Linked DNA regions of Homo sapiens: regions 2 and 3 are each linked to region 1. The links come from fine-mapping of genetic effects on gene expression. A gene starts in region 1. Each other region holds a variant in brackets. All regions are shown on one strand. Distances are from middle to middle.

Region 1 (10,153 bases):
CTGCCGCGAACTCTGCTGGGCCCCAGCGTCCTCATCTCCCAAATAATGGGTAAGGGGCGGGGTAAGGTCATGGTACCCAAGTAGCTGGACAGACGCATTTTATAAAAACATCAAGTTCATGGAAAAGCGTTTCTTACCTGGAAATTCTTACCTCCTAAATTGTCCTTAACCCTTGACATCTGCTACCACTTGCCTGCGGGAAAACATTAACCTAGAAGACAAAATAACAGGTGTATGTAACAGGCAGCAAATGACTTTGAACAGAGCCCCTGGGCATAGCTTATTACGGTGTCCGCCATGGACATGGGTACTTGCAGCTGTGAATGGCTATCTGCTTGTAGGAGTAAGAGATACCCTCTTTAGCCAGAAAATAAAGCCCCTAGTCACTCCAACGAGACTAGATTTCTCAATAGTCCATGACAAAGGGTCCCCGAGTGACCAGATGCCCAAGTGGGGACCTACATGATTGCTGAGAAACTGTGCTGCCTGCCGCAGGGCTCTGTGATTCCCTGGCTGAGTTTTGCAGGATAGTGGGGGGATGCCAAGGTCAGAGTCAGATGGAACTTACAGGGGAGGCTTCCAAAAGCATGGAGGTTGAGATGCAGGGAAAGGAAACTTGTGGAGGGAGTGCTGATAATGAAGAACAGAATTGGGGAACTTTTTTCAAAGCTTTAAAATGAGGCCCAAATCCCAGTCCCGTTTTTTGTCTTTGTGCCTTACTTCTCGTGTGTGTCTTCATGAACCCTCCAGGTGCCTTCTCCCTGTCTGTGAAGGATGTCACCACCCAGGGGGAGCTGATCAAGCACTATAAGATCCGCTGCCTGGATGAAGGGGGCTACTACATCTCCCCCCGGATCACCTTCCCCTCGCTCCAGGCCCTGGTGCAGCACTATTCTAGTAAGAGGGGGCGTGCAATGGGGGCAGGGACTTGTGCCAAGAGCCCCTGGATCTCTCGCTAAGATTCCCAATTGTGTGAGTCATTGGTGCCACCTTGGGGGATGGAAAGATTATCCCAAAGTTAGGCCTAAGGAGGTAGCAACTCTGAGCACCGGGAATTGGTGGCCCTAATTCCCTCTCCTGGCTCAGCAGGGAACCCCTTAGAGAGTAGCAAGCATTTTCAGTCTTAGAGTGAGCAGGTCGATTTTAGAGATAGCATGCCCTGCTTTGCGCAAACGAAGAGAAAGAGTTGAGTGTGTGTGCATGTGCAGGCGTGTGCACACACCCATGCAGGGGGTGGGGTGGCTGGGGAGTGGAGGGCCAGCTAGGAATGATACAGCTCCCAAGGTAGAGCCTGGCTGCTCTGGTAACCCCCAGCCCTGTCTTTTCTTCCCTAATGCAGAGAAGGGGGATGGTCTATGCCAGAGGCTGACCCTGCCCTGTGTGCGCCCGGCCCCGCAGAATCCCTGGGCCCAGGATGAATGGGAGATCCCCCGGCAGTCTCTCAGGCTGGTCAGGAAACTCGGGTCTGGACAATTCGGCGAAGTCTGGATGGGTGAGTGTGTGCACACGTGGGAGCATTTCTCCCCCCATTCCACCTGCGCCGCATCCTGAGTCCAGGTTCAGCATTTTCATAGCGTGTCATCCCTCCCCCAGAAGTCTTGAGAGGGAGCGAGGACAGAGGCGAGGACACTCATTTTACAGAGGAGGAAGTGGAGGTGCAGAGCCGCGTTGTAACAGCTGGGACCGCTTATGGTGGTGGCAGAGCAGGAACAGAATCCAGCTCACCCAGCCCCGAAGTCGCTCCCTCCTTCGTTCTCTGCCTGAAGCTGGCTTTGACAATGAGCTGCAGCGGCGCGTTAACTCCCCTTAGCTTTTCATCACCCAGATGGAAACAGGAGGTTAAACGTGATGAGCCATGATGTTCCAGAGCCTGAGTGCACACCGAGGGCAGCCGTGGGACTTTGGCCAAGTCACTGAAGCTCCAGGCCTGGTGTCCTCACATTTCCATCGCTGCTGACACCTGCCCCCTTCCCCCCCCCGCCCACCAGGATATAAAACTCGTGTTCCGTTTTATCCCTGGATTGGTCCATGAGTCCTCCCTTACCTGGGGCTGGTCCATGAGTGCTCCCTTACCTGGGGCTGATGCCCACGGTGCTTTTGGCAGGAGCTGTACCCAGGTCCCTGCCAAGGCCCATGTCCTCTAGAAAAGCAAGTAGAGTTGTCTTTTGCCCTTCAGGGGACTTCATGGAGTACAGGGAGAGTGTGGAGATACAGATAGTTTAAGGAGTGGGACAGGATCGCCATGGGGCTTCAGAAGGAGGGAAGGAGACCCCCATGCGTCATCCTCCTGCCCAGTGTACCCCAGGCTGTGTGCTTATTTCCACCAAGGAGTTATTGTGTGATAGAAGAGACTCATTATGTAGGGGAGGGGTGGGGGAAGGACACAGGTTCCGTGCAGGACAGAAGGACACAGGCCCAGGGTGTGGGGCAAATAGGTGAAATGCCCCCCAGGCAGGGTACATTCCTCCACTGCCTGAGGCCCCATATAGAAGGGACCTGGAACGCAAGGTAGGCACCACACAACCATGGCCTCCGGAACTGCATGTTCCAGCTCTGGCACCTGGAATGGGGTGGCACCTGGGCACTTACCCCGATTTTGGTTAAGGGATCACCTCCGAGCAAGCTCTCTGTCTTCTGATTGGCTTCTTCACTCCCCCGGGCTCAGGTTACTACAAAAACAACATGAAGGTGGCCATTAAGACGCTGAAGGAGGGAACCATGTCTCCAGAAGCCTTTCTGGGTGAGGCCAACGTGATGAAGGCTCTGCAGCACGAGCGGCTGGTCCGACTCTACGCAGTGGTCACCAAGGAGCCCATCTACATTGTCACCGAGTACATGGCCAGAGGTGGTGCCCCCCGCAGAGCCGCATCCTCAGAGCGAGGCGGGAGGGCCGGGCTTAGCAGGAGGAGGAGGGTCCGCTGCGGTGGGTTCACCAGGCCAGGGGGTCCTGCAGATCTAGGGCATGGCACGGTGTGGGGACAGGGAGGGATGGAGGGAGGGGGAGGGACAGAGGGAGGGTGAGAAACAGGAGGGTGAAGTGGTTCTGACAGAGCCATGTTCTCAGCCCAGGAGCAGTTCAGACAGCATTTCTGGAGTGCATCTTCTGTGCCTAGCACTCTTTGATGCCTGCTGGGAGGGACAGAGCATTGCAAAGTCAGACGAACACCAGGCCAGGCATGCAGGGACAGTACTAGATCCAGGTCTCCTGCCTCCTGGTCATGCAACCATTTACAACTGTGTGAATATTTTACAAGGATGGCCAGAGAGGTTGGGCTTGATGGCCTCTGAGGTCCACGGCGTGGCCAAGTTCTCATGCCACTTTCTCACCCTCCTATGACCCTGACCGCACACTGCTCCTATAGGATCCTAACATGCCCATGTTGATATAGCTCCCTAACAACTGTCACCAAGGGGCCCCCGGTCGGAGGCTGTGCTGGGGGTGCCTCTAGCCTGCCCCTAGGGCAAGCATCCATCCCTCCCAGCTTTCTGATTCCAGGGGGAGCTGCATTTGTCCCCTGCACCAAACCTGGGGGACAGTTCTCTCCATTCTGGTGCTTTCTTGCTGATGCCTGGTCCTCAGAGGCAGAGGGTGTCTGCCAGCAGGGATCAAGGGAGCGAGGCCAACACGGGGGGAAAGACAAGAAGGGGCATGAAACTTCGAGTCAGAACTGGGGTCCCACTCCCAGCTCCCGGCTGGGTGACTTCAGACAGGTCCCTGCACCTGGCTGAAACCTAACTTCTGGGCAACTGCTGGTATATTGGCTGCCTCCCGGGGTGCTGAGACTGGCATTTTGTAAAGTGGAAGGCACTCGGCAGCAGTAGGTAGATCCTTCCTGATGCACCGAGAGATCTGAGGGTGCAAACTCCCACTTCCCGCGCCCATGGGGAGCCACTCACACCAGAGAGAGGCTGGCACCACCAGGGGCGGGTCACTTTGCAGAAGGGCACTTGCAACTTCTCTTTTCTTAGGATGCCTGCTGGATTTCCTGAAGACAGATGAAGGGAGCAGATTGTCACTCCCAAGGCTGATTGACATGTCGGCGCAGGTTGGTGAAGTACCAGGTGCAGAGAAAGGGCGGCATGTGCCACCTGCTGCCCACAATGGCTGCTCGTGCCTTACCACCCCATCCTCTCAGCCAGCAGGAGAAGTCAGGGGGTACTGAAGGCCACCTTCCTCTAGGCAGATATCCCCAAGGTCACCCACTGCACTTGGACTTGCAAACCCTGGCCACTGTGCCTCCTGCCCCACGCAGCTGTGAGGGAGCCCAGGGAATGGAGCCTTAGACCCGGGCTGCTGTGTTGGAATGAGGCTATTCTGTTCCGAAGGAAGAGAGGGCGAATGAATGTCATGGGAAACACACAGAGTTAGCAAGAGTTCCATTGAACCCGGCAGGCAAGTGTGTTCTGTTGTGACCTCATCTCTTCCTTAGATGGTGCCCACAAACATCTCCTGTAGGACTTCCCATCCCAGGGGCCCTCAGCCTTTGCACAGCCCTGGCGTCGACCCCAGGCTGATGGGCAGGCCTGAGCTACACACAGATGCCAGGGACATGACTTCTCTGAGCCCTGGAGGACAGCCCCACCTTCTGCCACCAGGGAATTGCGAGTGCTGGACCTCCTTGGCTACCCAGGACTGGTCCTCAGTGTCCCTCACGTTCACATGCAGAACTTTCTGGACTCCATGGGGTGAAGAGCAGAGTGGAGAGGAGGGTTTTAGCCGAGAGCTCTAGCTGGCAGGAAGCACATCTGGTGGCCCTGTTAAAACTGGAACTCTCAGCAGAAAAGTTTTGGTCTGTGGTCAGCCTGTGAGGCACACACGTGCGTACACATACACACACACATACAGCTGCCACCGAGAGGAAACGCTCCCACCCACCGCCCACATCAGCCCTCCCACCTCGCCCCTCGCCCAGCCTTACCCAGTAGCGCCGCTGCAGGAACTGATGCCACAACGCCTTTTTCCGCTGAGGTGGGCAGACAGCCATCTGGGCAGGCTGGTTTTGGAAAATGAGTGCTGGTAACCGGCTTCAAACCCCAGGGCAGTGATAAGCCTGCCCACTGCTGCTGCTTCCTTTCCCCTTCCTTCTCTCACCCTCCGCTGTCTCCTATTCAATCCCCACTACACCCCCTTGGGAAATCTCGTGTGACCCAGGGGCAAAGGATGTGAAAAGCCATCGGAGTTTAATACCTGGATGTAGCCACAGAATCGGGGGTGAGGAGCCAGAAAATCAGAACTTCCCAGAAGGGCAGCCTCTAACCACATGCTGACCATGCCAATGGCTCTCTAAGCACACATGTACACACACACACTCTCACACACATAAAAACACAGACTCACACACACACGGACAAACACAAACACATACACAGACTCACACAGACACGCAAACTCACACACAGACAGACACACACACAGACACACAGACTCACACACACAAACTCACACAGACACACAAATACACAGACTCAGACTCAAACACAAACTCACACAAACACATTTACACAAACTCACAAACTCACACACACAAACACACACACAAACACGCAAACTTACACACACATGAGCAGACACACACCCGGCCCTTCTGGGCTCTTCTTTTCTTACTCCATAGGAAGCCATGCAAAGTCTCGCCAGACCTTTCTTCCAAGGCCAGATCTGGCCAACCCCACAGGAACCCTGCAATCACAATCCCTCGGGCCCCACTTTGCAGCCAGATGCCACCGGTTCCCATGCCCCATGCCTCGCCACCCCTCTACCTCCTCTGCCCAGGAAGCCTTGAACACTTCCCACCTGGCAGAATCCTTATCATCATCCATGGCTCAAGCGTAATGTCATTTCTATGAAGGTTTCCCTGGACAAGAAACTGCCAGAGAGCCCTTAGCTCAGGTGTTCCCGGAAGCACTGTTCTTGCTCAGCAGATCTGGGCAGCTTCTTCTTGAAAGCAGATCTGGGCCCTACTCAACATTTTTTAAAATATATTTCTGGTACTGTTCAATAAATATTAGTTATCAGAACGAGTACTGTTAGATGCTGCCCAGATATATTTAGTACTCAGTTTTATATTCCCCACAGTCCCATATTAGTAAATGAGTATTGATTGCATGGTGTAGCAAGGGGATGGATGGATGCATGGATGGGTGGATGCGTGGGTGGGTGGGTGGGTGGGTGGGTGGGTGGATGGATGGATGCATGGATGGATGGATGGATGGATGGATGGATGGATGCATGCATGGATGGATGAATGGGTGGATGGATGGATGGGTGGGTGGGTGGGTGGATGGATGGATGGATCCATGGATGGATGGATACATGGAAGGATGCATAGATGGATGGATGGATGGATACATGGATGGATGCATGGATGTGTTGATGGATGGATGGGTGGGTGGATGGATGGATGCATGGATGGATGGATGCATGGATAGATGGATGGATTCATAGATAAACCAACAAAATGCAAGCATAAGGAGAAGTGGAATCAATTCTAGTGCTGGCTTCTTGAAGTCGCATGTCTGAAGAGGTAAATGGGGTCTCTGCTTTCTGCCTCAGTTTCTTCGTCCATTGATTGGGTGAATAAAGCCTTAGTTTCCTCAGCTAAAAGGTGCCAAGTAGCACCAGCTGCTATCCCTGGCCCAGGCTGGTGATCAGGGGAGGAGAGACAAGTCTCTTCTTCTTCACAGCCTCTGTCCACCTGGATCTGCCAGTGCTCCCTGGGTGCCCCCACGGGGCAGGCGCTGGGTGAGGTTCTTGGTCACAAATCAACCTCGTCTAATGCTTGCCTCAACCCCCTGCCCTGGAGACCACATCCCTCATGTTCCATGTCAGGACTGTGGCCCCTCGGGGAGGTTAAGCAGCTTGCTAGAGGTCAGCGACTTCCCGAGGGCCTCCAGCTCCAGGAGCTGTGCTTCCAGCCAGCCAGTGAGAGCTGCCTGTCCTTGCCTCCTGCTCCCCCTCCCCCTCCTTCCTTACCATTTCTTCTCTTCTCCCTCCCTCTCCTTTTCTCCTGCCTGTGTTCTTCTATCTTCCATCTCTGCAGACCCTTGGACACAGCTGTGTGGAGCGAGAACGAGGAGGGGGAGGGGCACAGGTAGCCCCTGTGTCTCTGATGCCCACGTTGCTGCGTTGCTGTTCTGGGCTTCTAGGAGAGGAGTTTATTCGGCTGAGGAGCAACACAGTCACCTTTCTACTCCATCCAAGAAACAGCTCCTTCCCCAGCAGCCCACAGGGGCTGTGCGGGGGACACAGTGTGGGCTCGGTCTTGGCGTGGAGGCCCCCAGGCTGTCCTTCACCATGTGCCTGTTCCCTCAGATTGCTGAAGGGATGGCATACATTGAGCGCATGAATTCCATCCACCGCGACCTGCGGGCGGCCAACATCCTGGTGTCTGAGGCCTTGTGCTGCAAAATTGCTGATTTTGGCTTGGCTCGAATCATCGACAGTGAATACACGGCCCAAGAGGGTAAGCACAGCCCCTAACCACAAGGGAAACCTAGGGCCTTATCTTTCCCAGCTCCTCAAAGCCGCCTTTAACTTCTCCCAGCACAGCCCTGAGGGAAGACACCTGAGGGCTATACGGTTTCTACAGCTCTAGATCAGCATTTCCTTCATTTACCCAAATGTGTTCAGCAGAATGGTAGTGCCCTGAGACCTCCCATGGAGGAACAGCTTTAGGATAAGGTAGGTTTGGAGAAACAGCAGTCCACCCTACTCCCTGTCTTGGAGATTCCCAGTGCACATCAACATATTAAAGGCACTGAGAAGTCCTGCAGCAAAGAAACAGTTTATGTTTGCCTCACCTAGTGCCTCCCAAACTAATTTGAGCTCCAAATACTATTTTTTTTTTTTTTGAGATGGAGTCTCTGTCACCCAGGCTGGAGTGCAGTGGCACAATCTTGGCTCACTGCAACCTCCGCCTCCTGGGTTCAAGCAATTCTTCTGCCTCAGCCTCCCAAGTAGTTGGGATTACAGGCGTGTGCCACTACACCTGGCTAATTTTTGTATGTTTAGTAGAGATGGGGTTTCACCATGTTGGCCAGGCTGGTCTCGAACTCCTGAATTTAGGTGATCTGCCTGCCTTGACCTCCCAAAGCGCTGGGATGACAGGTGTAAGCCATGCCCAAATACTATTTTTATATAGTCCCTATTAACCTTCCATGGAATTAGGCTTTCACAGAGCACACTGTGGGAAACACAGCTCTCATGTGCGATCAGCAAACCAACCTGTATTAGGGTGTCCACGGAGCACTGTTTTACTCTGTGCATATAACTGAGGTGGAAATCTACGTCACAAGAGAATCTGAAGGGGTCACATATATTTATCAAGCTAGCAAGCAGTGTCTGCTGAGCCTATGAGTCAGATGACAAGCAGACAGGATATGGCTTGTTCTCTCGGGAACTTCAGGCTGGCTGGGGAGACCGAGAAATGGAGGCCAGGGGAGGCTGTGAAGTGCCAAGCCCTGAGGTCTGCTCCAAATGCTGGCCGGGGCTGCAGCCATTGAGGTGCTTCACAGGGCAGCCGGATGTGAGTTCTTCCTCATAGCGGCCCTCGGAGGTACAAGTGTCACCATTTCCATTTTGCAGGAAGGGACTAACGGAGGCGCCCGCAGGTTTAAATGGCTTGCCCAGGCCATGTCTTTTAAATTAAACAAGGCCCCTGTAAGGTGAAACAGGCCCCTTCCATCCCAGGTGGAAACGTGGTGGCTGCCCATTGAGGCCATCGCTCTCTTTTTAAAGAACCAAAGTGGGTGACTGTGTGGTATTGGTGTCCATATCGTCTTTCTGTGCTGCTGATGTCGTGTCTGCACTCACCTGGTCATGTGTCCTGGTGTGCGGTAGTGGCTCCCCCGCCATGCCTGGCCGCCCCGCCCTGTGAGGCCCCGCAGTGGGGGCTTGATGGAAGGACAGCAGGAGCAGGGGTAGGGGTGAGGATGGAGGGTAGGGGCCACCGGCCGTGGCCTCCCAAAGCTTGCATGGCTTTTCCCACAGGGGCCAAGTTCCCCATCAAGTGGACAGCCCCGGAAGCCATCCACTTCGGGGTCTTCACCATCAAAGCAGACGTGTGGTCGTTTGGAGTCCTCCTGATGGAAGTTGTCACTTATGGGCGGGTGCCATACCCAGGTAGGTGGCTCACCCCGCAGCTCGCGGCTCCCTGCTTTCCCGGCCGGCCCTGATGGCAGGTCGCCTGTGCTTGGTGCCTGTGGCTGCCCTGTTCTTTTCAGAGTGAGTCCCAGAGCGAAGACGGAGACCCAGGCATGGCATCTGGGGTGGAGCTCTGCCCCCTGCATCACTATTGCTCTGGGCCACAGGGCTGTGTCTCCTTCCTCCAGCAGAGGTCAAATGAGTCCCTCAAACTGAAATCAAGACAAAGGGCACATCCGAACTCAAGTTTACTCCCAGTGGCTTGTTCTCAGTTGAGGACAGGTTGTGCCTACCTTGGCTTTGCACCCATAGTGGATTCCCCAAAGCCCCTTCCTGTGTGGCCAGAATCGTGGACGACAGCCCCCAGCCCCAGTCGAAGGGCTCCAGCCACTTGGCCCCCACAGGTGGGCAGGCTCCGGGTCACCTGCTGCTGTGTGCACCTGGCAGCTGCCCATGAGTGATGGGCTTGGCTGTGCCCCTGGTGGTCACAGGTAATCAAGAGAGGGAGGGTCCCATCTTCAGAGGACCTGCCCCGTACTCAGGAGAAAATCTACAGCCTCATTTCTAGGCATTCCCCAGGCAATAAAAAGTAAATAAAGGGCTGTTTAGAGACCGGGCAGCCAGGCAACGCACGAGGCTGGAGAAGTGGTCTGGGACTGTGGGCACTGCTGTCCCTTGCCTGGGCCCACTGTGCCCCGCGGGACGCTCAGGGCCCCCCACCCACCGAGGACCCCAGCCCCTCACCCCCGCTTGCGGTCTCCTCTGCCGCAGGGATGAGCAACCCCGAGGTCATCCGCAACCTGGAGCGCGGCTACCGCATGCCGCGCCCCGACACCTGCCCGCCCGAGCTGTACCGCGGCGTCATCGCCGAGTGCTGGCGCAGCCGGCCCGAGGAGCGGCCCACCTTCGAGTTCCTGCAGTCGGTGCTGGAGGACTTCTACACGGCCACCGAGCGGCAGTACGAGCTGCAGCCCTAGCCGGCCGCGCCCGCCTGCGCCCCGTGCCCACCTCTGC
Region 2 (10,026 bases), 50 kb before region 1:
TTGAGACTGGTCTGGCCAACATGGCGAAACTGTCTCTACTCAAAATGCAAAAATTAGCTGGGTGTGGTGGTGTGCGACTGTAATCCCAGCTACTCAGGAGGCTGAGGTAGGAGAATTGCTTGAACCCAAGGAGGCAAAGGTTGCAGTGAGCTGAGATCGCACCATTGCACTCCAGCTTGAGCAACAGAGCGAGATTCCATCTCAAAATAAAGAAAGGAAGGGAGGAAGGAAGGAAGGAAGGAAGGAAGAAAGAAAAGAAAAGAAAAGAAAAGAAAAGAAAAGAAAAGAAAAGAAAAAAAAAAGAAAAGATCCCATTCACCTGCACAAAAGCCACACCCCTTTGTGGCCAAGGAAAGGGCCACAGAAGAAGAAGTAGGCCCTTCAGAAGGGGGAGAAGTAGGCGCCTTCAGAAGCTGGTTATCCGTGTGTAATGCCATCACAGGGACGTGCGTTTAAGATCTTTTATCAGTCTTCGTAGCTAAATACTTTTAGTTAATTGCAGGCGGGAGGGGCTACTAGCTCAGGCTACATGGAGCATGTGCTCAAAAACTGTCTCCAATATGGTGACTTGCTGTTTGAGGACGGTCTAAGCGACTGAGGAGTGTGCCCCCTGTTCCCACCCTTGAGATGAGGCCTGATAAGGGTGCTGGCATATTTAGTGTTGGGCACCCTGGTGCTCTCCAGCATGTGGTGTTTGGCCTAAGTGGCCCATGTGGACTTTGTTTCAAGGATTTTACGACAAGAAACACCAAAATGAGGACATCTCTGTGGCCATGTTTCAGGCAAGGGGGTAATGGATACAGAGCATATGTACACACAAACACACATGCACAGAGACACGTACAGACACATACATGCACACAGACACATAGATACAGACACATACACATAAGAATACACACAGAAACACACAGACACCCACACATATACACACATGCACAGACATGTAGAAATACCTAGACACAGAGGAACACACAAAGATACACAGGCACACATACAGGTACATCTACATGCTTATCAAAAACAACAGCAAAACCACCTACCATGACAAATACTATTGCAGCAAAACTGAACAAATAAATTCTGTGCCATAAAGTTTCCTAAACCTCATCTATTTTGTAGAAATCTAGTCACTTGAGTATCATCCTTCACAAAGTTCTTTCTATTCTTTCTACTGTACAAAGTTTTCTGTTGTCAAATAGCAAGAGATCTCTGTTTTCTACTTGGAATGGGCCTGGAGAAGGGAGACAGCACCCGCTCCCTCCACCCCTTGTCCCTGAGCACAGCATGGTGACCTGCCAAGCCAGAGGGTGACCTGGACACTCATAACTCAATGCAGGGCCAACTGTAGCCTCTGGCCGGTGTCCCTGAGTGAGGGCAAAGTTGTAATAACACTTGTTCTCTCCTTTCTCCAATTTGCTCCCAAGCTCCATTGCTTTCGTTCAGGCCCTCCCCCTTCTAGACTGGGCAGTTCCGCATCCTTGGAGCTCATTTCTCTGTCTTCAGAATCTGATGCTCCAATTCATCCCATGTGTGGCTGCCAAGGTCTTTCTAAAACTCAAATGTGGCCCTATCACCGCACAGGGTAAAGCCACCATAAACTCCTCTGTGTTTGAGAACAAGGGCCAAGTCTCCCATTGAGGCCTCCAGGGAGTGGACAGTCTGGGTCTCCTTTCTTCTCCAAGCACGCTGGGCCCATCTGTCCTGTCCCTGAGGACTCCCTGGCACACATGACACTTCAGAGCTTTTGCCAACTCCACTCCCTGCCTGAAATGCCCATCTCCTTCAGAGAGCTTCTATGTATCCTTGGAGGTCCAGTCCTAATGTCCCTGCCTCCGATAAGACCTCTCCCCATCTTCCTCTCGCCCTGCTCCTGTCCCCGCCAGGCATGACAAATCTCTTCCCACAGTGGGCCCAACAGGGAGGCAGATGGTAGAACAGGTTTTGGGCCAGGTGCCAGGTGCACGTGGCTCTTCATCCTGGTTCCCCACCGCACACCTGGAGAGCTGAGTGCTTTTCCTGAGGTCACGCAGAAGGTTACCAGCCTGGCTCTGGAGCTGTCTCTTTGCCACATCGTGGGGTGTCTTTAAGGTGACCTTGAATGTGCTTGAAGCTGTTTTATGTCCTATTTGCAGACCTAGGGGAGGACAATGCCAGGGCTTTTTGCCTTCCCAAGGTCACAGCCTGAAGACACTCAGAAAGATGTAGTTGGCTCATTTATCATTTTTTAGAAAAAAAGAAAACAACAGAATGTGCTGAATCCTTGTAACTGTTGGCCATGGCACTAGTTTCATGGAAGGTGGAAGGGCAGGTTAGGCTTCTTATGAGGGCGTTCCTGGCCTCTGGAGGGGTGTGGGTGGGCTCAGGTGAATGACTGACAGACTGGATTTACGTATGTTGAGTGTGAATCTCAGTCCACAGCTTGGTGTGCAAAAACAGAAAAGCTATCTGGTAATAGCTACATCTCTGTTGGGGAGAGGAAACTGACCTCTCAATTCAGGGTCTTCATACCTTTCTCCAGGGTGGGGTCTAAGTTCTGGGAGCCTCATGAGTCTCAGGAATTCTGGGGTGGCCTATTTGGTCTTTGTCATCAGTCCATGCAGGGGGCTGCTAGAATGTCATGTCAGCCTCTGACCCTGGCCAAGCCCCCTCTCAGAGATTCCAGGCCACATCCCAGGTTGAGGGATGCATCCTCCCACTCTGGGGCCCCCCAGGTGGGACTCTCAGGGAGGCCACTTGAGACGCGGTTGCCCAAACTGACTCAACAAGATCTCTCAGTCACGGGCTGAAAGATCTGCATCACGGGCTGAAAGCAGGAAAGTTCTTTTGTCTCTCTTTCTGCTTTCCTGTGACAATGGGTGCAGAACCATCGTGAATGGTTCAGGTGCGGGTAGGGAAAATAACAAATAGGAGGAAGAACAATCTCAGAAAGGCAGGTAGCCTGTCCCATCTGCTGACAGAGCAGTGTGTAAGCATCACTGAGCTTGTGACATTGATGTTTTTTCCAACATGCAGTATAAATGTACACTGTGATTTTACAAGGCCAGGAGCCAAGTAACAACACCCTTGGCAGAGGAAGAGTGAAGTGGGGAAGGAAACTGAAGCGGGCTAGGGAGGAAGGACAGCTTGACAACTAGTTAGAATTGGAAGGACGATGGACTAGGATTGTAAAAGAATAAGGCAGAATGTCCTACCTTCCCACCTTGGCAAACCCTGCCCCTGGGAGTGGTCCTGGATTTGCAGTGGCCCTGGCCTGGACCACCATGTAGATGTCACTAATGGATCCTCCCAGGGGACGGGCCTGTCATGGCCCTCAAGAAAGGCAGGGATGACCACCCCAACTGCAGGGGAAGACACCACCCACCCTGAGGGCTTTTGGGAGCTTTTAAAAGAAGGCAAGTCACGCTTTAAAAGAACTTTGAAGAGACAGGAGCTTAGTGGACCCAGTGGAGATAAAAGGTCCAGGTAAGGAGTGGCCAAGCACTTGGAATTTAGAAGAGGCGAATCAGAAAGTCCCAATGGACCAGCTTGGGGGTTTGGGGGTTACTGGGTCCATGTCAACATACAGCTCAGTGGGTGCCAAAGATCAGCCAGGCCTAGGGTGCAGATGACAGTGAGGCAGGATGGTGACCTGGATTAGGACTGGAGGGGGAACCTGAGGCCAGGAGAGCAGGGAAGAGATTGCTAAAGACAGTCACCCCATGGCAAGCTAGTTTTCTCCCCGAGCCAGCATTTCTACACGTGAGCACTGGCCTTGCTGTCTGGCTGGGTGACTTCCTCTCTCTGGGGTTCAGGGCCCAGCACTGCTAATCGGGGGTAGAGTCAACGGCCTTCCAGTGCACCCTTTGGTGGCTCTGTGTGGCACATCAGGCACACTGGTCAAGTAGGGGGTCATCACCAGGCCTTGGGTGCTTCTCAAACCTAAAGTCATGTGGTCCTCACAACAGCCCCGTGATGTCATCAGGAACCTGCCCACTGGCCCAGGGCTGGGAAGGACTAGAGCCAAAGTGCAGGCTCAGGACTGTTTGACCCCAAAGCCAGTGCTCTGAACCCTCCATCTGTC[T/C]TCATTAACCACCGCCTCTGCCACTACTGTAAGGCAAGAGAAGCGTGTCACGGCGCGAAGGCTAAGCACATGCTGGGAAATCACCCGTGGCTTGCAGACACATGCACAGCTACTGGGGGTAGATCAAGAGCCAAGAACGGGTGAGCTCAAGCTGTGCTCACATGGGGCGCGTGCTAGGTGACTGTAGGCCTCAGAAAACCTGGGATCCAGAACAGCTTTCCTCCGCTAGGGGGCTCTGGCACAAGTTTGCCTGAAGACATGGCCCCATGGCGAAGCCATCATGTGTGGGACCTTCCTTGGCCCCCTCTTGGTGAGCCACATTCCTGTCCACGCAGTAGCTCCAGCCCCCACCCGTGGCTTTTCACTTCTTCCTTGCTTTCCACTTCTGACCACCCTATACCAGAAGGTACTTCATGTCAGTCCTCTCCCGCATTCCCTCTGCCTTCGGGTCTCCTGGAATTGGAACTGTCACTAGTCAATCATTACTTACGGGGATGTGCAGAAAGCCAGACACTGTGCTGGGCCTCGGGCGGCAGAAATAAGACAGCCACTGTAGTGTCAGCTGTGTGCACCCATCTCTCCTTCTGACCCAAACGCAACTGTGATGGGGGCCGGTCCTGCCCTTTGGGGCCATCAGACAAGGGAGCAACTGACATTTGCAGAGGCCAGAGGAGCCGTGGTGGAGGGGTTTTCTCAGGGCTCGAGGGAGGTGCCTGCCCATCCACTGAGAGCTTTGGGAAGGAAATGCTGGGCGCCTTTTGTGCCTCCTACTCATCAATTCCCCCCAGCTGCAGGCAAGGGAGGTCGTTAGCAGCCCAGCCTGTGGGGAGCAAGCAGGCCATGAGCTGCATGCAGCTGGCACTGCTATTACTTAGGAGGCATCACAACAATGACTCAGGTGCTGACCATAACCCTTAACCAGGTCACAGTGGCTGCCTAACTGTTGAAGCTGCTACCCCTCCTTTAGGTTACACCGCACGAAAAGTTGGCAATCCTCTCTCTCGGTGGCTGCTGTGGGAGCAGCTAACCTCACAGCACCCGAAGGGATGTCATCGGGACCCCAGCTCGGTTTCCAGCATCAGCTGATGCCAGCAAGAAGCCAGCCAGGCCTGGGGCTTGGCAGCCCAGGGACTTTACCATCCACCATCCACAGGGCTGTTGCCCTGGACAGGTCATTGATATCTGACTCACAGCCAATTCATGGATGACGTGAATCCAAAAATCAGAGGCCCACGTGGATTTAGACATGGAAATGCCTCACCAGCTTCCATGAGCCAGTCTCTGTGCGGCAGACTTGAACTGCACGGGGGCTGATAGGAAGCAGGGTGGGCGCTGGGATGTGACTGCGCCCTTGCCAGTGTTTCCAGTCTCCCAGCTCGGGTTCTGTGGTTGTCTAAGCCTGGGGGTGCTCTGCCGGGTCTGTGGCGACCCGGCTGCCTTTTCAGCCTAATCACCAGAGAAGCCACAGAAAGAGCTGGACCACTTAGAGGGGCAGTCTGGCCACAGCCACTTGGAAGAACAGGCTGATTTTGTACAGATGTGTCATTTTCTCCTGACTTTTAAACTGTAAACATTATATAATACCCTAGAAAATTTTGAAAATAGATATAAACCATCAATAACACTGGCAACCTAACACTTTTACCTAAGAGCTACCCATTTTGATTTATCTGATGCGCAGTTTTCATTGCTGGAATCATAAAGACATAGCACCTTAGATTCTTCTCTTTTCTTTTTCTTTCTTTTTATTATAACATAAGCATCTTTCCCACTGCTACTTTTGATCACTTTTGAGGACTCAAAATGATCATTTTTGGGCCTGCATAATATTTCACTGTGTGAACTCTATCACCATTTCAATCAGGTGTTTCGTTTGCTTCCATATTTTTGTATCACCATAGCAGGTGATGATTGAAAAAATAAATGCAGCTTGCAAAGTCATTCTGAATTACATCGTGGAGCTGGAGAGTGTTCTTTCCTAATCCCTTCAAGGAATTACGATGATATGGGGAGATGAAACATTCATTTGGGGGCTGGCGTGGGGTAAGCTTTAAATTGCGTTTAAAGTCAGTGTGATAGTGACTTGAGTTTTTCATCTCTTTTCTCCAGCTCCTTGACGGCCATATTTGCTGGCCAGGGTTACTGGTGTGGTCTTTGGCCAGAGAGCAGACTTTCCTCTCTGTGAAATGAAATGACTCATAAGGAAACAAACCCCAAGGCTTTGGGTACATTTGTCCCATCATCTAAACCAGGGTTTCTAATCAGAAGTCCATGAATGATTGTGGGGCTTTGTCGGGGGAGAGGTCCTGAAGCTGAGCACAAAATTTGGCATGTTTGTGATAAGTGTATTTTATAGGGATAGTGTCTGTAGTTCCATCAGGTTCTCAACGGGGGCTGTGGCCCCAAAAATGTTTTTTAAAAAACCCAGCTTTCTCTCTCTGTCTCTTTCCCCCTTTCTGGGAATCCGAGATTGAAATGAAAGAAATCGAAAGATCTTTGCCTACATACAGAGGTCCAGTAATGGGATAGGGAATATATTATCCCCGGGATAGCGCCACTGTACTCCAGCCAGGATGACAGAGACTCCATCTCAAATAAATAAATAAATAAATAAATAAATAAATAAATAAATAAATACATAAATAAAGTGCCTCTTTGTTAAGGCAGTTGCTTCTATTTCTACTTTTTTAACCAAAGCTAATTGCTAATGTGTTAAAGTACGAGATTCTGCCTTGATTATGGCCGTCCGTGGTTCTTAACTAAAGGAAATGCTTTGGCATTTTAAAACACATGGATCCCCGTAAGCTTTGCATTTCTCACCAGGGAGTCAGACTGACACACAAATATTTGTGGTTAGTTAATTGTTCTTTCCTGCTACAAACACTCACCATAGGAGGTGAGCTGTGTTTACCAAACTGAAATGTTACTATTTGAGGCTGAAGGAGCCAAAGAAACCTTGAAATTCAAGAGACCAAACCCAAAAGTTCCACCCAACGGAGTGGGAGACTTCAGCTCATTGAATTCCTGAATACAGCTCGGTCTTTTGTCTTCACACAGCAATGAGAACACATGGACACAGGAAGGGGAACATCACACACCGGGGCCTGTTGTGGGGTGGGGAGAGCGGGGAGGGATAGCATTAGGAGATATACCTAATGCTAAATGACCAGTTAATGGGTGCAGCACACCAACATGGCACATGTATACATATGTAACAAACCTGTATGTTGTGCACATGTACCCTAAAACTTAAAGTATTAAAAAAAAAATCAGTTTCTGTTAACAACAAACTCTGGCACCAGTCAGCGGGTTTGACTTCCTAAAAAAGTTTGATTTGCTTTCTCTCTTAGAAATTCTGTCTTAAATTTCCTTAAACACAAGTGTGTATACCTGGAGCAAAGAACATGGGGTGTAATTCAATTTCTCTTCTCCTTTCTTCCTCTGGGAATCTCTGCTAGGTTTCCCACTTATTATTGTTGAAAACTAGCAGTCTTTAAAGGGGATGGACTTCCTGAAATACGGCAAACAGTCATGCAACAAAAAGGAGAAAATTATATTTTCATTTTGGGCGTCTTAGATGTAGTGCAACATTCAACATGAGATCAATGTGCCCTCTTGACCCCAAAGTATTGGCTAATGATCCATAATCAATATTTAGGATAACACTGGTTGGGAGTATGAATGACATCTTTCCACCATTGTCTTGGTAAATGAAACTATTTACTCTTTCTGGCAGTGGATGCTGTCGGGAGGTGGAAAAGTAAGCATTTTCTTACGTTTGGGTTTTCTGTGATTGTTTGATTATTTAATTTATTCGTTCAAAGAAGAGAAAGATTTACTGCATGTCTACAATGTATCAAGTGGTAAGATGGGGCCTGAAAATACAAAGATAAACAACCAAACAAACAAAATGGCTTTTCCTTGAAGAGCTCAGGAGGAGTCTGGTTTAGAAGGCAGACACGCAAGTTCTATGCTACTGGTCTGTAAGAAGCGCTGTGGGATCAGAAGAAGGGATGACTTAATGGGTACAGAGTTGGTGATGTGTGGATGACCTCGTGAACGAAGACTAGTTCTTCAAGCAGACCTGTGGAGGACACCACAGAAAACTGTGTTGTTTGTTTAGCTCTTTTCCAGAACTTGTTATGATCTCTTAACAAGGTCTAGCCAATATCATTATAAGCACGTAAAATTCCTCATCCTAAACCCCACCCTGAAATCACTCTGACGACATGTCAGCCATCTGACACAGATGTGGATAGTCTGAAAGCCCAACAGTTCTAATCATTTAGGTTCAATTGGGTCTCAACAGAGATTTTTACATGGGACTTCATGTTTTACAAATTATTTTAGTATTATCAATTTGATCCTTTAAGGCAGGCAGAAAACATATTTCCACCCTCTACTTTATAGATAAAGCCATTGAGGCTCAGAGAGATTTTAAAATTTTACTGCAAATTACACAGGCTTCTGGTTTTGTTTGTTTGTTTGTTTGTTTGTTTGAGACAGAGTCTTGCTCTGTCACCCAGGCTGGAGTGCAGTGGCACAATCTCGGCTCACCGCAACCTCCCCCTCCTGGGTTCAAGTGATTCTGCTGTCTCAGCCTCTTGAGTAGCTGGGACTACAGGCGCCACCCACCACCATGCCCAGCTAATTATTGTATTTTTAGTAGAGATGGGGTTTCACTGTGTTGGCCAGGCTGGACTCAAACTCCTGACCTCAAGTGATCTGCCCGCTTCGGCCTCCCAGACTGCTGGGATTACAGGCGTGAGCCACCGCGGCTGGTCAGATTATTCAATTTTAAGGTCTTACGGGCCACATAACATGATTGCCTTTCTAAAAGAATTATTTATTCATGGAAGTCTGAAGCAAGAGTCTCTTGAAGTTCTTTTTTGTCCTTGATAAAATATTTACTTTTCTTGTTTTATCCTCCTACGAGATCCCTACTGTCCATGCCCACGGCCTAGATTGGTCTCTGGCCTTGAGCCTTACAGAGCATGCTGGGTCCCAGGGCTTGTCCTCAATGCACCACACGCAGTTGGCTGATGAACTAGGACCTCTGTGTCTTGAAGTGGGAGTGGATGGTAGGAAGGGGGAGATGGAAAAGCAGGGGTACAAGGCTGATGCTGGCAGCAATGAAGACCTTGGTGATTCGTGGACCATAGTGGAGACTGAGAGGGAGTGGAGAGACGAAGAGAAACCAGAGCATCATTCCTGATGGAGCCCTGTGTTACCCCCAGGCTCCTTTAGGGCATGAGAGTGCCAGGGCTGGACCATCTCCAGGCTGCACACTTTTTCTCTGCAGCTGTGAGCAGAGCCCAGGCTGTCTGTCCCTCAGCATCCCCTAAATCTGCGATGCAATCATAGCCCCTGAATGTTAGGGCTGGAGGCAACTCAGAGATCATCCACCCACAGCCCTCGCTGCACAGAGACAGAAGCAATGAGATGAAGTGACTCGTACAAGATTGCACCTTGGGCTGCAAAATTCATACCAAGTGATCCAGGGAGGCCTTTGAGGCATTGCATTCCCAAAGTGCCTTCTAAATAGTTAGCCAGAGTTATAGAGTGGTGCTCAGAACAGGTTGTGGACGTTTATTGAATTCCATGTGATTTAAGTGTGGTTGGCGGGCAGTCCACACCACCGCCGCGCACTGCATGAGAACCCTGTGTGAAGGGGGCTTGGGGTAATGGAGCAGCTGGGCCCGACCCAGGTGGATTCAGAGTCTCCCATCACTCGGAGAAGCCTGCACCTTGGAAATAATTCAACTCCTTGGTCTGACTTTTGCAAGGGAAATGTTTGGGGCATTTTATAGGTCTCCATGGCTGTGGTGTTTTATGACATTGAACCCAATAAAACTCGTAATGACACAGGATCTGCCAAGGGGATCGGACCTTCCCTTCTGGCACAAGGAACCATTCTGTTTTGGTATCCCAGGAAATGAGTGGAGGAAAATCCTTGTTATTTC
Region 3 (10,463 bases), 23 kb before region 1:
TTGCCTTATGTTAAAAATACTCACAAATAATTTCCAAATTCTGGAGAAGGCAGGTAAAGAGAAAGAAATATGCTCTAAATTTTGTTTACAGGAGTATATTTTGCTCAATTGTTAAAAGTTGTAAATAGCTCAGTAGAAGTTTTCTTTACTCTGAAAAACAAAACAAAAAGAATCAGCAACAATTTTAAGTGAAAAGTCGAAAAGATTTTTCCAGTTACTGAATGTTTTGGTTGTTTCCAGCTGGGAGCTAATTAATATGAGTAACAATGCTAAGAACATATATGTCAAGTCTTTCTGTGGTCATATGTTTTTATTTCTCTTTGATAAGCAACAAGAAGTGAAATATCTGGGTCACAGGTTAAGAAGCTCCCAAATTGTTTCCTAAAGTTGTTTCGTTTCACCTTACCATCAGCCTCAGGTGAGCATTCTAGTTTCTCCATATGCTTGCCAACACTTGGTATGATCGGTCATCTAATTTTAGCATCTGGGTGGTTGTGTGGTGGCATTTCACTGTGGTTTTAGTTGCCATTCCCCTAATGACTGACGACACCGAACACCTGTTCATGGGTTTGTGTGCTGCTCAGCTGTCTTCTCTGTTCAACTGTTTGTTAAATTGAATTTTTGGCTTCTTTTATAGAGTTTAAAAGTTAATTATATATTCTCATATAGATACATGTTTTTCAAAAATGTCCTGCCTGTCTCTGATTTAGCTATTTCTTTTCTTAATGGTGTTTTTAAAGTGCAGAAGTTCTTAATTTTGAAAAGTCTAATTTATCAATTTTTCTTGTATACTTTATGATCTTCTATTCTAAGGGAATAATCTATTCTAAGGGAATAGAAGGTCACGTTTGTATGCTTCTGACTCATATTCTTTATATCCTTTGTGACACCAAGGTCACAAAGATTTCCTTCTAGGTTTTCTTCTAAGAATATAATGTACCTCTTTAAAGCAGCTTTTAAGATTGTTTTTATTTATCATTGGTTTTCAACAATACGATTATAATGTACCTTGGTGTGGTTTTCTTCATACTTGGGGTTGATATTCTTGAGTCTTCGGGTCTATAGCTTCTATCAAATTTGGAATTTCCATTTTTGGTTTCTTTAAGTTTCATAGTCTTTCTGGTAGCCCAGTTACGTGTCTTCTGACTGCGTGCTAATTTCTCCCCAGTCACTGATGCTCTGTTGTTTATGTTCACCTTTTTCTCCCTGTGCTTCACTGTGGGTACTTTCAATTGCAGTGTCTCCAAGCCCTCTGACCTTCCTTCTGCAGCACCCAATGTACTATTCATCCCATCTAGAGTTTTGGTTGTTTGTTTGTTTGTTTTTGAGACAGAGTCTCGCCCTGTTGCCCAGGCTGGAGTGCAGTGGCACCATCTCGGCTCACTGCAACCACAGCCTCTCGAGTTCAAGTGATTCTTCTGCATCAGCCTCCCAAGTAGCTGTGATTACAGGCACCTGCCACCAAACCCAGCTAGTTTTTGCATTTTTAGTAGAGATGGGGTTTCACCATGTTGGCCAGGCTGGTCTCAAACCCCTGACCTCAAGTAATTCACCTGCTTCGGCCTCCCAAAGTGCTGGGATTACAGGCATGAGCCAATGTACCTGGTCATGTTTTTTTTTCCTTTTATAAAAAAATTTTAATATTTATTTATTTATTTATTTATTTGAGACAAAATCTCGCTCTGTTGCCCAGGCTAGAGTGCAGTGGTGTGATCTTGGCTCAAAGCAACCTCTGCCTCCCAGGCTCAAGCAATTCTCCTGCCTCAGGCTCCCAAGTAGCTAGGATTACAGGCACGCAGCACCATGCCCAGCTCATTTTTTTTTTTTTTTTTGTATTTTTAGCAGAGACAGGGTTTCACCATGTTGGCCAGGCTGGTCTCGAACTCCTGAGCTCAAATGATCCTCCTGCCTTGGCCTCCTAAAGTGCTGGGATTACAGGCATGAGCCGCCACTTCTGGCCTCTCTTTTTTCTTAATTTCAGATATTGTATTTTTTTTAATCTCTAGGAGACCCATTTAATTTTTTTATGTCTTCATTTTCTCTCTTCATTGTCTTATTGCTTTCAGTTATATATTTGAACCAGTTTATATATTTTTGTCATTTCTGTTTTAAGGCACTAGTCTACTAATATCAAAATGTGTGCAATTTCTGCTCATGTTCCTCTCAATTAACTTTTCTCCTAGTTGAGAGTCATGTTTTTCTGTTTCTTTGCATGCCTGGCAATTGTTACTGGATGACAGGCACTATGAGTGCTGAATATGATTAGTGAGCGCTGAATATTATCGTGTTTCTTTAGAGAGTGTCACACTTGCATGTGGCACACTGTTAAGTTACCTGTGGATAAAATTGGTTTTTGAATAACAGTTCTGTGACTTACTGTACCTTCAGCAAGACCTTAAGCCTCAAGGAGCCTGAGTTTCTTCATCTGTAAAATGGGAAGGTATATGTCTGCTGTCAGGGCTACATATAATACATGAAAAGCATGCAGTAAAATGCCCAGCCTTGAGTCAGAAGGTGTACTAGGCACTGTGCCAGCATCATTAGTATTCATGTTTTATGTGATAGGCAAATCCTGCAACCGTTTTATGAGTTAATTTTAAATCTCTGCCTCTCTAGCAGGACATCTGTGTCTCTAGATCCACTCAGTAATTACAATCAACCCAAGCATGTTAAAGGCCTGAGACCTTTTCTTTTCTTTTTCTTTCTTTAACATTTTCCAATCTCATGTTTGAAAGCATAAAAGAGAACCTTTCAGTCTAAATGTTCTCCTGCACCCTCAAACCCGATGGAGGTGCTTCTCACTGCACGCTCCCTTCTTACACATTCCACCTCTGGGTTCTGCCAAGGAAACATTGGAGAAACAGCTCCAAAGGATTGAATGATGTCCAGGGCCTTTTAAGAGAGGTTCAAGTCGTGACCAGATGTGTATCTGGGTAAGATACGTGTGAACCTCCGTGGGAAAGACCAAGGGTTTGAAGTCAGAGATGTGGCTCAAATCTCTCTTCTGTGCTTCAGTTTCTTCCCTGTCTGCCGGAGGAGGAGGAGGAGGAGGAGAAGGAGGAGGAGAGGAGTAGGAGGAGGGGGAAGGGGAGGTGGAGGAGACGGAGGGGGAGAGGGAGGGAGATGGGGAGGGGGAGGATCTATCTAGTTTACAGGGTCCTCATGAGGCTCATGTGGGAAAATGCTTTGCAGGCTGGAAAGTACCACAGAGGTGTGAGTTATTATAAAAAGGGAAGTTATTTCCCTCTGTCAAAAAGCTATGCAGAAATATACTAATATGTAAGAAATGTTTGTATGGAGGACAGAAATAATTCATTTCATGGAGAGACAAGAGGATCACTGGCAGTAAAACTGCAGGCATTATTTATGGGAGACTCAAAGGAGGGAATGCCCCGTGTTGGCGGGCCTGCCTTTCAATCCTTGTCACAAGTCATGATCCAGAAGCTCGGCCAATTGAAGAAAGGGTCTCCATGAAGTGGAGCTCATGACCTGCCTGCATCAGCATCACTGGGGGCATTTTTTAAAAATGCAGATACCAGCACTGCTGGGGCTGGGGTTGGGAGTCTGCAAACTCCCCTGCTGGTTAAAATACAAACTGAGGTTTCAGAACTATTGTGCCAAAGAATCATAACTGACTCCATTGGGAAGTAATGACCCATGATTTGATTTCTCATTTAATTTTTCAAAATGCAAACAATGCAAAAAGTTAAAAATTGAAAAATAGGTTAAGGCCCATAGTCTCATCAATACAAGACACAACTGTAGTTGGATTAACATTTTGGCATATTGCTAACATATTTTAATAATCACTACTGTGAGAGTTTTTTAAAACATAAATTTACATGGTGTTCCCCCCCCAAAAAAATTCACTCACATAAAGGAATTTTATCCGTCCCCAGAATTACCTAATGAATTTCAAGCTTCTCTGTTAGCAGAATCAAATGTAGGTGACTCGATAAACAAGTGTCTGTCTTTGACTTAACACAGCTTTATAAAAATGCCTTCTTCCTTCCTTCCTGAAGGTCTGCTCAGCACCCTCAAACTTTTTACCACCTGAAAATCTTTTCTATCAATTTTACCACAATGGGGGGAGGTGAATTTCCACAAAAGATCTTTTCACTTTAAAAAATTGAAATGGCCACATAATTTCTCCTCCTAACTGTGCCGAAGTACCTAAAAGTCACAGGTTGGCATTGCTAGGTCAGCCTTTTGCAGGGGCCACACGTGCCCAAGGCCCTTACACACCCAGCCAGGTGTTACAGAGCAGCCTCTCACCATCAGGCTCTGTGCTAGTGCTGGGAAAAGATTCTGCTGGCATTTAAAAGTATTGCACAAGGAGGCCAGATGCAGCGGCTCATGCCTGTATCCAACCCAGAACTTTGGGAGGCTGAAGTGGGAGGATTGCTTGAGTCCAGGCATTCAAGACCAGCCTGGGCAACATGATGAAATCCCACCTCTACATAAAATTGTTTAAAAAATTAGCCAGGCATGGCAGCACGTGCCTGTGGTCCTAGCTACTCGGGAGGTTGAGGTGGGAGGATCACTTGAGCCCAGGAGTTCAAGGCTGCAGTGAGCCATGATCACGCCTCTGCACTCCAGTCTGGGTGACAAGAGACAGACAGATGAATGAAAGAAAGAAAGAAAGAAGGAAAGAAAGAAAGAAAGAGAGAGAAAGAAAGAAAAAGAAAAGAAGGAAAGGAAAGAAAGAAAGAAGAAAGAAAGAAAGAAAGAAAGAAAGAAAGAAAGAAAGAAAGAAAGAAAGAAAGAAAGAAAGAGAAGGAAAAGGGAAGGGAAGGAAGGAAAGGAAAGGAAGGGATATA[T/C]TGCACAAAGCATTAGCTGTGAATGACTGTAGCACACACTCTACAATCCAGCAATGGAAAAGCTTTGTTTTCTGAACGTGTTTTCTATCTTCATGTGTTTGGAAAAACACCTATTTCTGAAATACTACCCAACCCTGTTGGGAGTGTGCCTGGTATTTTTTTCTAGTGTTCCCAGTTTCTCATCCTTTGCTCTTTCAACTCCCAACTAACAAGTGTGGAAGGACTGATGGAATCAGAGCACGCCCATTTTGTAACCACTAATGGGACTTTTAAATGTCGGTGAGGAACTTGTCAATGGAGGAATAGGGATGCCTGAGCCTCGACCTATCTTAGCATCACTAAAATGGTGCAGGTAAACACTGTGAGCCTCCTGGTAGGATGCAACATGGAGCACAGATCACCTCCTCGACAGCATCTCTACCAAGAGGGGCTGAGCTTGAATCTAATGGAGCCTACAGAGGTAACTCTATGTGTAAGAAGGACGAGAGGGAAGAGCAAGTGATGAACCATCACAAGGACGCAAAATCCAAAATGGAGAACATTCTATAGGACTGGCCTTTACAAATCAAAGGCTTGAAACTAACCAAAGTCAGAGCAGAAGGGACTCCTGTTTAAAGGAAACCTAAGACGTTGAGTTATATACGAACCTTGTTTGAATCCTGAGTAGGACAAACTAAGCAAGAAGCTATTTTTAAGTCAATTGTTAAAATGTGATTATGAATTGGGTTCAATGGCTGGATGGTTAGATGATACCATGGAAATATTGCTAGTTTTGTTAGATGTGATGAAGTAACATTGGGGTTATGTGAGCAAATGTCTCCATGCTTTAGAAACAAATGCAAAATATGGGGTGGTGAAATGACTTGCTTCACTACATTGATTTCATGTTGTTTCCAAGTTTCATTCATTTAGAGGAAATAAAACGATATGATGTAAAATACTGCAACCCAGAAAACAATTTTAAAGATAATTATTGAATGTGGGTGATGAGTGTAGAAGAGTTCTATTATTATTAATATTATTATTTTATTTATTTTTTTGAGACAGTCTCACTCTGTCAACTAGGCTGGAGTGCAGTGGCAGGATCTTGGCTCACTGCAACCTCCACCTCCTGGTTTCAAGCGATTCTCCCACCTCAACCTCCCAAGTAGCTGGGATTACAGGCATGCGCCTGGCTAATTTTTATAGGCACGTGCCTGGCTAATTTTTGTATTTGTGGTAGAGACGGGGTTTCACCATGTTGGCCAGGTTGGTCTCAAACCCCTGACCTCAAATGATCTCCCACCTCAACCTCGCAAGTGCTGGGATTACAGGCATGAACCACTGTGCCTGGCCAATATTCTTGACTTTAGTATATTTTGGAAGGTTTCATAAAAAATAGTTTTCATCTAAAAAAATCTGTTGTAGCCATCCTTCTCAGGTCTGGCTAGCGTTTTCTCCCAGGTGGAAGTAATTTCTTTTTGCTGAGCTCACAAAACACTTTACCCAGGCCTCTCTTTGGTACAGAATCATGCCCACTCTGAACTGATGGAATCGGGTGCATGCCTTTCCTCCTTATTTTCCTGTGAGAGTGGGCTCCATCCTTGTTTCATGCCTGTACCTTCCGCTATGCCTGACATAGTTCATGGTTGACAGCAACTGAATGTCTGTGGCTGAATGAATAGAAGAACCTCGTTGCTAGGAACTGTTATCGGGGCTGTTTCAGGTTCACATGTGGAGAGGTCAGTATTAGGGCAAAGGTGAGGAAGCCTCATTTCAGTGGTGTTGTCCTGAGTTGAGACATGAAACATGAATTTTAACTCAAATTCTTTGGCCCCTTCTTTAATTCAGAGCCATAGGCCAATCACCGTACTTTCTTCATTTACAAGATGAGTATAGCATTGGTGGTTTGTACTGGGAGAATTTGGAATTCTGGATGTTGGTGAGATGCTCCATATGGGATCTCATGCCGGCAGCTAGCATGGCATTGTGATCGCGACACCCAGGGTGAGTCCCAGCTTTGCCAGTAGGTACCCCTGTTCTACCTGGATGCTACCCACCTATGTCTGGCAGGTCAAATCAGAAAGGCAAAGCCTCCAGCACATAACATGGCAAGGCTTCCAGATACAAAATAGCAAAACTATTTTGCCACAGGGGAGATGATAGGGAATCTGAACTGTCCCCTCCAAGGGACACAGAGCCTCAGGCAGGGCCACAGGTGCACCTGTTTTGTGCAGAGGGCTCAAGCAGCCCTGGAGACAGTAACACCCTCCAGCTGCCAGCTCTGCCACCTTCAGCATGACCTTACCAAGCCACCTCGCCTCGCCTTCTTCAGTGGTAAAATGAGGATAACTGTAACCAATTTATCAAGGCTAACATGTATTAGAAAAAAAGAAAAACTCGTTATCCGTCAAGTGCTTTTCAACCATGTCATGCTAGCCAAGTGCAAATAAGGGGTTTCTAGTTTCTCTATTTTTAGTTGATGCCTCCACCACACCCCTTGTTTGACTGAAGCTGTGTTTCAGGCTTTGAGCATCTCCCAAAGCAAACATTGACTGCCCTGCTCTGGTGAAAGTCTGCATTAGAGGGCCTAGCTGGTTTCAAATAAACAAACAACTCCCCTTTCCCACTTCCCCTCCTCTTGCTGACTCCCCCGACTAGACACACATGCACACGGTGCACATGCATGCTCTCTCACACATGCATATACACGTGCACACATAGACACACACACACATATATACACACACATATTCAAGCACATACACACATGTGTATTCACACGCATGCTCTCGCTCTCACACACACACAAGTGCACATAAGTGTGTATGCTTCCTCTCCCACTCTCTCACAAACATACACAGACTCACACCCTTCCCACAATGCAGCAAAGCCATCTGGAGCCCCAGCCAGTGTGTGATGCGTTTTGCCTCTGTCTGGACTTCTGCACTTCCTGGCTTCACCCAACCTGAAACTGCTGGGTGCAGCCCGAGCACCAGTGACAGCCCTGGTTGTCCCATGGCCTCTTGAGGAACCCAGGTCTCCAGTCAAAGCCACTGGAGTAGGGGGACCCATAGAGACCTGAGGTACTCATGAGACCCATGGAAAATCATCTGCACACACACTGCTAAGGAGTCAAAGGACAGAAGTGTAAGTAGTGGGTCATTTAATCTTAGGAATTTTACTTTCTGTCCGGTTCTTTGTTCAATAAATTGAACAACCAATGTTCAATTATGTTGTCTCAGTGGACACAGGTGTTTGCCAGGAAGCTTAAAGTCAATGGCAATATGGCTGGCCAGACTAAGAAAGACAAGAGGGCTGGTCACCTGGGCAGATGCGGAAGTATGAGTCCAAGTCTGGGGAATATACTAGGAGCTGCTGACCACTGGCCCTTCGTTGAGTCAGGGAGGCTGAGAGAGGCCACGAAAGGCCTGAGGTTCAGGCAGCCCTGGCTGGCCACTTAACGGTCATTGTCAAGAACTGCAGGCTGGCCCTGGCTCCAGGCCTTATGCTCCTCTGTTGCTGGGCAAATCACTCAAATCCTCCTTTTATTTTTCTGCTTGTATCAATAATATATGCTTAGTATTAAAGAATTTAAGAAATATATACAATTAAAAGAAAGAAAGTCAAAGTCACATGAAGTCTTATAATCCAAAATCCATTTAGAAAATACTTTGGTGGGACCTGCTTTGCATTAGCACACACACCGTTTTTTAAGTCCGCTGGTTTTTTTTTTGTTTTGTTTTGCCTTACACCACACCTCTGTTTTGTACTCTCCCTTCCTCTAACAATAACCACAGTAAACAACTTGGTGTTCATCCTCCCCAGCCTCTTTCTGTGTAATATGCAAACATATCTACACGCCTGAATAGAGGTTTCTTTTCATTTGGTGTTTGCAAATATGGGATTCCCTCATGCACCTCTTTGGGTCTTACTTTTCTCGTGTAACAACATGGTACCGAAATTCCTCTTGACCTCACTGGTGAAGATCCAGCACATTTTTTTTAGTAGTTGTATGAGAGATTTATAGAGTGTAGATTTATTCAACAAGTCTTCAATTGCTGGGCAGTTACATTGTTGTTTTCTGTTTGGGATTTTTTTTCGGGGGAGGGGATTGTTTTTCCAACTATTACTACAACAAACATTTTCATCTCTCACATGTGTCTATATAATGATGTTTTATTAACCTGAGATAGTCCAGAGTGGGACTGAAAATCAAAAGGTATGTGTGCTTTTTTATTTTAACAGAATTTAAAAGATTGCCCTTTAAAAGAATTTAAAAGATTGCTTCTTCCAATAATATTTCATGTTTTGTCTAATAAATATTTATTAAGCCCACACTCTGTGCCAGACATTGGTTTAGCAATTTGGATTCAGCAATGAATAAAACAAAGATTCCAGCTCTCACAGAAGATTAATCCTAGAAATGGAGCGTGAAGGAACAAATGAAACAATAATTATAACAAACATTTTACTATTTGGGTTTGTGTTGCACTAACTTCCTATTTCTTATCTTTACACATTTTTCTATTGAATGAATTATATGCTGCAATATACTTCCTGTCAAAAGTTTATGAGCTTTGTATATATTATGAATACACATTTATCTGATGCTTTGCAATCTCTTACCCAATCTATTGCTTATCTACGAACTTCATGAGTAGTTTCTTATACCATCTAATATTTTTAATGTTTATGAATTTGTACTTTTTTTGTTCTCTCTTCGCTTCTGGGTATTTTATCTTTGTTAGTAGTTGTCTCCAAACTCTGGGTTATATACACAGTTTCTTACATTTCTTTTAATTACATTTTTGTTTTTTATTTTTTTCAGTCATACACCTAGAATTTATTTTTTAATATCATGTGAGGTAGGGGTTCAATTGTATTTTCCTTAAGGTAAATAGTCATTTTCCTAATACCATTTATTAAAATAAACTATCCACTTTCTACTGAATTAAAATGCTATCTTTTTCACATACGCGATTCCTGTATTTACCAAAATCTGTTTGTATGTTTTTTATTCTGCTCTGATGATTGTTGTCTACTTTTATTATTCCAATTTCATGCGGTTTTGATTACAATCTTCTATTTCATAATTATAAAGCTAGGTTAAGACTTAATTTAGTCATGTAAAGCTTCAGATGATTTTATGCAATTACAAATTATAATTTTAATTAAAAGAACATTCCATTTATATTAGGAACAAGAAAAACATCACAATCAAAAAAGAGAACAGAGTATAATAATTACAAGACAATGCTACATAAAACTATGGCAACAGATTGGAAAATGTAGATGAAATTAAAGATCTATAAACCATATAAATCATCAAAATGGCACAAAGAGGAGAAAAAATGGGAATAGATCATTCCTATAGAAGAAATTGGAAATGTCTTTAAAGATTTACTATTTGAAAGGGCCCCAGACACAGATGGCTTCACAACTGAGTTCTATTTAGCCTGTGAGGAACAGATAACCCCACTGTTATGAAACCACTCAAGAAGATAGAAAAAAAAAAAAAAGAGAGCTCCTCAATATCTGTTACAAAGCCAGCGCACCTTAATGCTAATGCCTCATAGACAAATCTCCCTTGGGAATACAGATTCTCATTCTAAATAAAATATTAGCAAATAGGGCCGAGTGTGATGGCTGACACCTGCAATC

Evidence for each region. PIP is the estimated chance that this variant, and not a neighbour inherited with it, causes the effect.
Region 2: its variant is the best candidate, but not a certain one, in a credible set for the expression of BLK-AS1 in whole blood (TOPMed, PIP 0.84).
Region 3: its variant is the best candidate, but not a certain one, in a credible set for the expression of BLK-AS1 in blood mononuclear cells (TOPMed, PIP 0.56).

The regions. Positions count from the first base shown.
Region 1 is chr8:11,553,993-11,564,145 of GRCh38, forward strand. BLK-AS1 (BLK antisense RNA 1) reads right to left here and starts at 4,273. Exons shown (of 5, transcript XR_948956.3): 1 at 3,898-4,273; 2 at 2,074-2,669; 3 at 1,726-1,870; 4 at 152-211. It overlaps BLK (BLK proto-oncogene, Src family tyrosine kinase), which reads left to right. Exons shown (of 13, transcript NM_001715.3): 7 at 751-897; 8 at 1,340-1,492; 9 at 2,666-2,845; 10 at 3,970-4,046; 11 at 7,310-7,460; 12 at 8,987-9,118; 13 at 9,911-10,153. The coding sequence ends at 10,116. RefSeq lists enhancers at 4,443-4,732, 9,379-9,428.
Region 2 is chr8:11,504,120-11,514,145 of GRCh38, forward strand. The region is part of intron 1 of BLK (BLK proto-oncogene, Src family tyrosine kinase); the gene reads left to right. Among named protein-coding and RNA genes, the nearest start is that of BLK, 15 kb to the left of the region's middle. RefSeq lists enhancers at 2,684-2,743, 3,807-4,036. The variant T/C (reference allele first, on the strand shown) is at 4,064.
Region 3 is chr8:11,530,551-11,541,013 of GRCh38, forward strand. The region is part of intron 1 of BLK (BLK proto-oncogene, Src family tyrosine kinase); the gene reads left to right. Among named protein-coding and RNA genes, the nearest start is that of BLK-AS1, 22 kb to the right of the region's middle. RefSeq lists enhancers at 1,295-1,374, 1,545-1,604, 7,071-7,300, 8,461-8,540 and a silencer at 7,614-7,778. The variant T/C (reference allele first, on the strand shown) is at 4,821.